Homo sapiens: one gene and its partner. The protein of the gene in region 1 binds, or shares a complex with, the protein of each later gene. Links are inferred from orthologs where the notes say so. Each region holds a gene or a part of one and is shown on either strand. Other genes may lie near its edges.

Evidence for each region.
Region 2: the proteins of KEAP1 (region 1) and NFE2L2 are in contact, whole or in part, in a crystal structure (PDB 3WN7), measured with the Mus musculus proteins. The link is inferred for Homo sapiens from one-to-one orthologs. Residues at the interface, in NP_001103775.1 of Mus musculus: Tyr334, Ser363, Gly364, Arg380, Asn382, Pro384, Asp385, Gly386, Asn387, Asn414, Arg415, Ser431, Gly433, Cys434, His436, Ile461, Phe478, Gly480, Arg483, Ser508, Gly509, Tyr525, Gln530, Ser555, Ala556, Tyr572, Phe577, Ser602, Gly603; in NP_035032.1 of Mus musculus: Leu19, Ile22, Leu23, Arg25, Gln26, Asp27, Ile28, Asp29, Leu30, Gly31, Val32, Val36, Phe37, Phe39.

Annotation. Positions count from the first base shown.
Region 1 is NC_000019.10:10,502,030-10,505,778, reverse strand, and holds the start of KEAP1 (kelch-like ECH-associated protein 1), read left to right. Parts: upstream 1-2,422; 5' UTR 2,423-2,538; intron 2,539-3,007; exon of another isoform or gene 3,008-3,082; intron 3,083-3,749. UniProt on the Homo sapiens protein: Substrate-specific adapter of a BCR (BTB-CUL3-RBX1) E3 ubiquitin ligase complex that regulates the response to oxidative stress by targeting NFE2L2/NRF2 for ubiquitination.
Region 2 is NC_000002.12:177,230,098-177,233,846, forward strand, and holds the end of NFE2L2 (nuclear factor erythroid 2-related factor 2), read right to left. Parts: intron 3,243-3,749; coding exon 3,153-3,242; intron 2,487-3,152; coding exon 2,295-2,486; intron 1,912-2,294; coding exon 688-1,911; 3' UTR 211-687; downstream 1-210.

The sequences.
Region 1 (3,749 bases):
CCCCTGAGGAGCTGTCTGGAACTGCATCTACACGCAACAAGGATTTGGGGTAGCGGGGTAACTCCAACGTAGCCCTACACGTGATTCCTTCCAGACCCTGAGCCAGGACGTTCAATCTTTCAAATTCACCCTGGAGGCTCCAGGGGCCTAGAGTTTCCATTTATTATTCACTTACATGGCGAAATCCCATCTATCTTTTTTTTTTTTCTTTTCCTTTCGAGACGTAGTCTCGCGCTGTTGCTCAGGCTGGAGTGCAATGGCAGGATTTCGGCTCACTGCAACCTTCACTTACCCACCACCACACCCGGTTAATTTTTTGTATTTAGTAGAGACGGCGGTCTCACCATATTGGTCAGGCCGGTCTCGAACTCCTAACCTCAGGTGATCCACCCGTCTTGGCCTACCAAAGTGCTAGGATTACAAGCATGAGCCACTGCGCCTGGCCTCTCTATCTTTTAAAAATAATTATAATTTGGATGAAATTTAGATGAATTCTTTTTTTTTCTTTTTTTTTTTTTTTTTTTGAGACAGAGTCTCACTCTGTTGCACAGGCTGGAGTGTGGTGGCGCGATCTCTGCTCACTGCAACCTCTGCCTCCCGGGTTCAAGCAATTCTCTGCCTCAGCCTCCCGAGTAGCTGGGGATTACAGGCGCCCGCCACCACGCCCGGTTAATTTTTGTATTTTTAGTAGAGATGGGGGTTTCACCATGTTGGCCAGGCTGGTCTTGAACTCCTGATCTCGTGATCCACCCACCTCGGCTCCCAAAGTGCTGGGATTACAGATGTGAGCCACCGCACCCAGCCTAGATGAATTCTTTAAAATAAACTTACATACATTTATTTAAAAGTTAACGTTACATGATAAACGGTGTGCATGACAAATCAGTATCCCCAGTCATGAAAAATAGCAATGGTTTCTGTCTCTTGGGAGCCAGCATTCGCATTTAATATTTTTATTTTTTATTTACTTATTTATTTTTTTGAGTCAGAGCCTCGCTCTGTGGCGCAGGCTGGAGTGCAGTGCGGTGATCTTGGCTCACTGCACGCTCCGCCTCCCGGGTTCACGCCATTCTCCTGCCTCAGCCTCCTGTGTACCTGGGACTACAGGCGCCCGCCACCACGCCCGGCTAATTTTTTGTATTTTTAGTAGAGACGGGGTTTTATCATGTTAGCCAGGATGGTCTCGATCTCCCGACCTCGTGATCCGCCTGCCTCGGCCTCCCAAAATGCTGGGATTACAGGTGTGAGTCACCGCGCCCGGCCCCGCATTTAGTCTTAATGATAATCTGGTAGGTAGGTGCTATTATATTATTACTTTTTATAGAGAGGAAACTGAACCATAGAGAACTAAGTAAGCGCCCACGGGCACTGAGCTGGTAAGAGGCAGATCCAGGGTTTGAACCCCCCAAAGACGGGTGCCACACGCCTCTTGATAGGAAGTAAATCAAAAATAAAGACAAGGAAGGCCGGGCGCGGTGGCTCACGCCTGTAATCCCAACACTTTGGGAGGCCGAGGCGGGCGGATCATGAGGTCAGGGGTTTGAGACCATCCTGGCCAACATGGTGAAACCCCATCTGTACTAAAAATACAAAAAATTAGCTGGGTATGATGGCGGGCGCCTGTAATCCCAGCTACTCGGGAGGCTGAGGCAGAATTTTTTGAACCCGGGAGGCGGAGGTTGCAGTGAGCCAAGATCGAGCTACTGCACTCCAGCCCAGGTGACAGTGAGAGACTCTGTCTCAATTAAAAAAAAAAAAAAAAAAAAAAGACAAGGAAAACCTGAGGCCTGGGCACAGCGCCTCACACCTATAATCCCAGAACTTTGGGAGGCCAATGGAGTCAGGATCTCTTAAACCCAGGTGTTCAAGACCAGCCTGGGCAACATTGCGAGACCCCATCTCTACAGAAAAACAAACAAACAAACAAAAACTAAAAATTAGCCGGGTGTGGTGGCGCCTGTCTGTGGTCCCAGCTACTCAGGAGGCTGAGGTGGGAGGATCGCTTGAGGCCAGGAGCTCAAGGCTGCAGTGAGCCGCGATTGCGCCACTGCACTCCAGCCTGGGCGTGCAGATCAGAGCGAGACCTTGTCTCTAAAGGAAAAAAAAAAAGAAAGAAAGAAAGAAAAGAAAAGAAAAGAAAACCTAGCGAGGTAGATAATTTTCCCTAGATCCTGCGGCCGCCGGACCACGAGGCCGGCGCTGTGCGTTGTTAAAAGGAGAATAGCAGATGGTGGCGCGCAGCCCCGCGAGGAGACATCCAGCAACGAAATCGGGAGATGGAAGGGACAGTGAGAAGGGGGGCCTGGCTGTGCGCCCCCGCCCGATGCCCCACTCCTCGCCGACGGGCGCCGGGCACCTGCGGGAAGGGCGGGAGAATCGCCGCTCCTTTCCCGCCGCGCCCTTTCCGCCCTCTCCCCGCCTCCTTTTCGGGCGTCCCGAGGCCGCTCCCCAACCGACAACCAAGACCCCGCAGGCCACGCAGCCCTGGAGCCGAGGCCCCCCGACGGCGGAGGCGCCCGCGGGTCCCCTACAGCCAAGGTAAGGCAGGAATCTCCTGGACTGGGTCGCGGTCCCCCGGCTTCCCGGAAGCGCAGTGCGCGGGTGGCATCACTGTGCCCGGAGCCCCTGCGCGCCCCGGCCATCCCCACCCCGAGGGACCCCCTACGGAGGCGACCTGGGGGCTGAGGTGAGCGCTTGGGCAGCAGCGACGGGGAGGGGTGTCCACCCCACCCCTGGTGCGGGCCGGGGCGCGCAGGCCTGGAACTCGGGGTTCAGACTCCCCGCGACTCGGACCACGCGGCTAAGCGCGCTCAGGGTCGCGTGCCCCCGCCCCGCCGCCATGCTGGGCGCCGTGGTGGCCGCGCAGCTGGGCGACAGCAGGCGTGGGCGGGGGTGGGGAGCGGCCCCTCAGCGGTCCCTACCGCCTGAGGCCAGGGCCCGGGGACTTTTATTGTGACACGGCGGGCGCCCGGCTCTGCTTAGTCATGGTGACCTGCGCGCGCTCCGCGCCTCCCCCACGCGCAGCGATGGAGGCGCCGGGGCTCGGGCGGTGGAGGCGGAGCCGGAGCGCGGCCATGGCGGGGTGAGTGAGGCGGGATGTGCCCGGGCTGCGGGCATCGCGGGCCGCGAGCGCCCCTGCGGCCGTGCCCGGAGACCAGGAAAACGGGCGCCACGGCCCAGGGCGCCTCCGAGTTCCCCGCCAGGACTCGGAGGGCCAGGAGGGCGCGACCTGGGTGGATATTTTTGTTGGACGGCGCAACTCTTGGGGTGGCCCGGGAGCGGCGGAAACCGAGCGAGAGAACCAGGAGGCGCTGCGCAGAAGGAGGCCCGGGGGCTCCGAGGCGTTGAGGGGCTCGATCTGCGTTCTGGGGTTGGCAGCCGAGAGGCCGCGGTGGGGTCACTTCCTCGCCTCACTGGGCCTGGTGGAGGCTCAGGAGGGGCATGCGCAGTCGCCCACTTGCCGCTTTGTAGGGTGGGGGAAGTGCCCGGTGCCCAAGGGGCATTGTTGACCGATTGGCCAAAGACCAAGAGGCAAACCCAGGGCCTTGGCACCAGAGTGGGGGCCGAGTGGCACCCAGGGAGGGTGGAGGAGGCCGCTCTGGCAGGCACGGTGGCAGGGCAGTTAGCCAACCACCCGTTTATTGACCCCTGCGCAGTGCCAGGCCCCAGGCGAGAGGCACAGGAGAGGGTTGGCCCGACGCCGACCTACATAGGTCTCCCTGCCATTTGAGGCGCTGGGGCCGGGGACG
Region 2 (3,749 bases), on another chromosome or scaffold:
TTGGGTTTAGATGTACCTGCTATTGAAGAGGCAAAGTATCCTCTTGATATACTTTATTTCTCTGTAACCCTGGTACTAGAAATGTAGTATAAAATTATTTTTATATTTTCAAATAAAACATTCTGAAAATGCAAAACATCTAAATTAAATGGATGATTATCTTATGGAAAATACTGTGTGAATAAACTCAAAGGAATCCCAAACAAATAATTTAACAGTCATAATAATCCTTTATTAGTACCAGCTCTTAAAATTTTTTTTTTTTGCCAGAGCTAAACAATTTAATATAAAAAATGCCATTTTTTGTCCATACAGTATTTATAAAAAAGTACATAGTGGTTAGTTTTGCAATAATTTCTTTTTAGCCAGATGTCATATCATCATATAAATCTATGAATATAACAAATGACATAAGAACAGTATAAATAAGTTTTTGTAGTATTTACACTTACACAGAAACTAGCCCAAATGGTGTCCTAAGAAATTGTTTACAGTTAAAGTGAAACTACTGATTCAACATACTGACACTCCAATGCTTTTTAAAGTTTCGTATTATTTTCTATACTAGTTTTGGCTATGATTTTGCATAGAATTACTTATAAAGTATGAGCATTTCACATCACAGTAGGAGCTTTTAGTATAATAGTACAAAAAAACTAGCTCAGAAAAGGTCAAATCCTCCTAAATCTAGTTTTTCTTAACATCTGGCTTCTTACTTTTGGGAACAAGGAAAACATTGCCATCTCTTGTTTGCTGCAGGGAGTATTCACTAGGAGAATAAGGTTTTCCATCTTCATCACGTAGCATGCTGAAAACTTCGAGATATAAGGTGCTGAGTTGTTTTTTCAGTAGGTGAAGGCTTTTGTCATTTTCTCCTTTTTCTTTGAGCAATTTTTCTTTTTCATCTTTCAAATGATCTAAATCTTGCTCTAGTTCTACTATATTTTCCAGTTTTCTTTTTCTGCAATTCTGAGCAGCCACTTTATTCTTACCCCTCCTACGTATATCCCGAATTAATGCAAGTTGAGCTTCATTGAACTGCTCTTTGGACATCATTTCGTTGAAGTCAACAACAGGGAGGTTAATGATTTTTTCTACAGGGAATGGGATATGGAGAGCTTTTGCCCTAAGTTCATCTCTTGTGAGATGAGCCTCCAAGCGGCTTGAATGTTTGTCTTTTGTGAATGGGGTTTTCCGATGACCAGGACTTACAGGCAATTCTTTCTCTGGTGTGTTCTCACATTGGGCATCATGCACGTGAGTGCTCTGCCCCTGAGATGGTGACAAGGGTTGTACCATATCCCCAGAAGAATGTACTGGTGTTTTAGGACCATTCTGTTTGACACTTCCAGGGGCACTATCTAGCTCTTCCACTTCAGAATCACTGAGGCCAAGTAGTGTGTCTCCATAGCTGGAAGATTCCACTGAGTGTTCTGGTGATGCCACACTGGGACTTGTGTTTAGTGAAATGCCGGAGTCAGAATCATTGAATTCTGCTGTGCTTTCAGGGTGGTTTTGGTTGAAAGCTTTGCAAAGTGATAGATCAGAAACATCAATGGGCCCATTTAGAAGTTCAGAGAGTGAATGGCTTAAAGTAGCAGGTGAGGGCATGCTGTTGCTGATACTGGGCTCAGCTATGAAAGCAGAATAAAATTCATCACCAAAATCTGTGTTGACTGTGGCATCTGAATTTAATGAGTTCACTGTCAACTGGTTGGGGTCTTCTGTGGAGAGGATGCTGCTGAAGGAATCCTCAAAAGCATTAAGAAAATGTGGACTACAGTTACCTACTTCTTTTTCCATTGAGGGTATAGATGAGTAAAAATGATAATTGTCAACTTCTGTCAGTTTGGCTTCTGGACTTGGAACCATGGTAGTCTCAACCAGCTTGTCATTTTCAATATTAAGACACTGCATGAGAAGGAAGTTTATACTATATAAATCAAAGTTAATCCATGATAATACGTGATAAATTTAGATAAACTCCCTACCCACATTATCTTCAGGCTTATCTCTATAATTTATTATCTATAATTCAGAGATAATTCTCATTTCCAATACATATTTACGCCTAAGCGTTATGTATTATTTTCAGAGTTCCCAGATCAGACGTCAGGTTTATAACATTCTATCCTCAAGATGTCCAACCAATTTAACTAGCATGGGCAGTACTCATGACTAAGTTAATAGCACCCTCCAATCCTTCCTATAAATAGGTGGTATATAAATAATCAGAATGACTAAAGGCACTGAATATAAAAAAAATCTCCAGTATTACATTCTATTTTAGTTACCTGTAACTCAGGAATGGATAATAGCTCCTCCCAAACTTGCTCAATGTCCTGTTGCATACCGTCTAAATCAACAGGGGCTACCTGAGCAACAGAAGTTTCAGGTGACTGAGCCTGATTAGTAGCAATGAAGACTGGGCTCTCGATGTGACCGGGAATATCAGGAACAAGTGACTGAAACGTAGCCGAAGAAACCTAAAATTGATAAGGCATTGATTTATGAGTCTTCCACCAACAGGGGATGAGTAAGCTCTAAGGCACCACTACAAAACAAAATGGAATCAGCTGCAGTTCTGTGTCTCTCTACTTACTAACCAGTCATGACCCCGTTTGTAAATAACAAATCTTTTTTTCCTACCCCACTGACTCAAATTTATAATTTGCTGGTCTGTTTCAGCTTAAGCATTTGAAAGTAAACTTTAAAATGCGTAAGTACAATCTTTAGGATTTAGTTTATATAATATCTAGCACAGTGGTACTAGATAAAACAGATTTATTAAAATTGTTAACTGAACAAGTCTTCGTTTATTGCCCAGCTGGCTCTTTACTCACCAAACCTCTTAGATACTTGCAGCAAATGGGTTATTTGTTTCCATGGTTATGCTGTCCATGTTTCTGGCTATGCAATAGTCAATGGTTTTGGTTTTGTATTGTGTGAAGGGTTTTTTTTTTTCTTAATTGTAAAGTTATTTATAGGCTAAGGTTTCCTTGACAAGAGTATTTCCTTGGTTAAAAAATTTCCTCCTAAAAATGTTTTTATTCTTTTAAATGGAGATTCATTGACGGGACTTACATAGAATAGATTGTTATTTTATAGTTATGATGGAGTTTTTCTATTAACCAGGTTATTTTATACCTCACCTCATTGTCATCTACAAACGGGAATGTCTGCGCCAAAAGCTGCATGCAGTCATCAAAGTACAAAGCATCTGATTTGGGAATGTGGGCAACCTGATAAAAGGGAATGACACAAAGGAAAACAAAAATGGTTAAATATTCCATTGCCAAGCTAAATATTCAATAATTGATGTTCATAAAATATTTATAATCAAGTTAAGTAAATATTTATCTTATTTCAGAGATCACTTTGATGCACAATTTGAACTAGACCACATGGGTTCAGATCTTAGCTCCTCCAATTTTCTGAGTGATCTGGGCAAATTATTTAACCTTTGTGAGCTTCAGTTGCTCATCGTAGATAAAACAGGGATAATGGTAACTAATTAATATAGTTGTGTTAATTAAATCAGTCAGTATATGTTCTTAAAACAGTGCTTGCCACACACAGTAACGCCAGTAATCCCTGCTACTTGGTTCTCCTGCTACTACTTCTGTTGCTGCTACTTGATCCTTACAGGATGTTTCTATACTTTACAAAACTCTTTGGTGTAACTTAAGTCTTCCCAATCCTCACAATAACACTGTTAAGATCAATAGGTTGGGTACTGAACTCAGGTT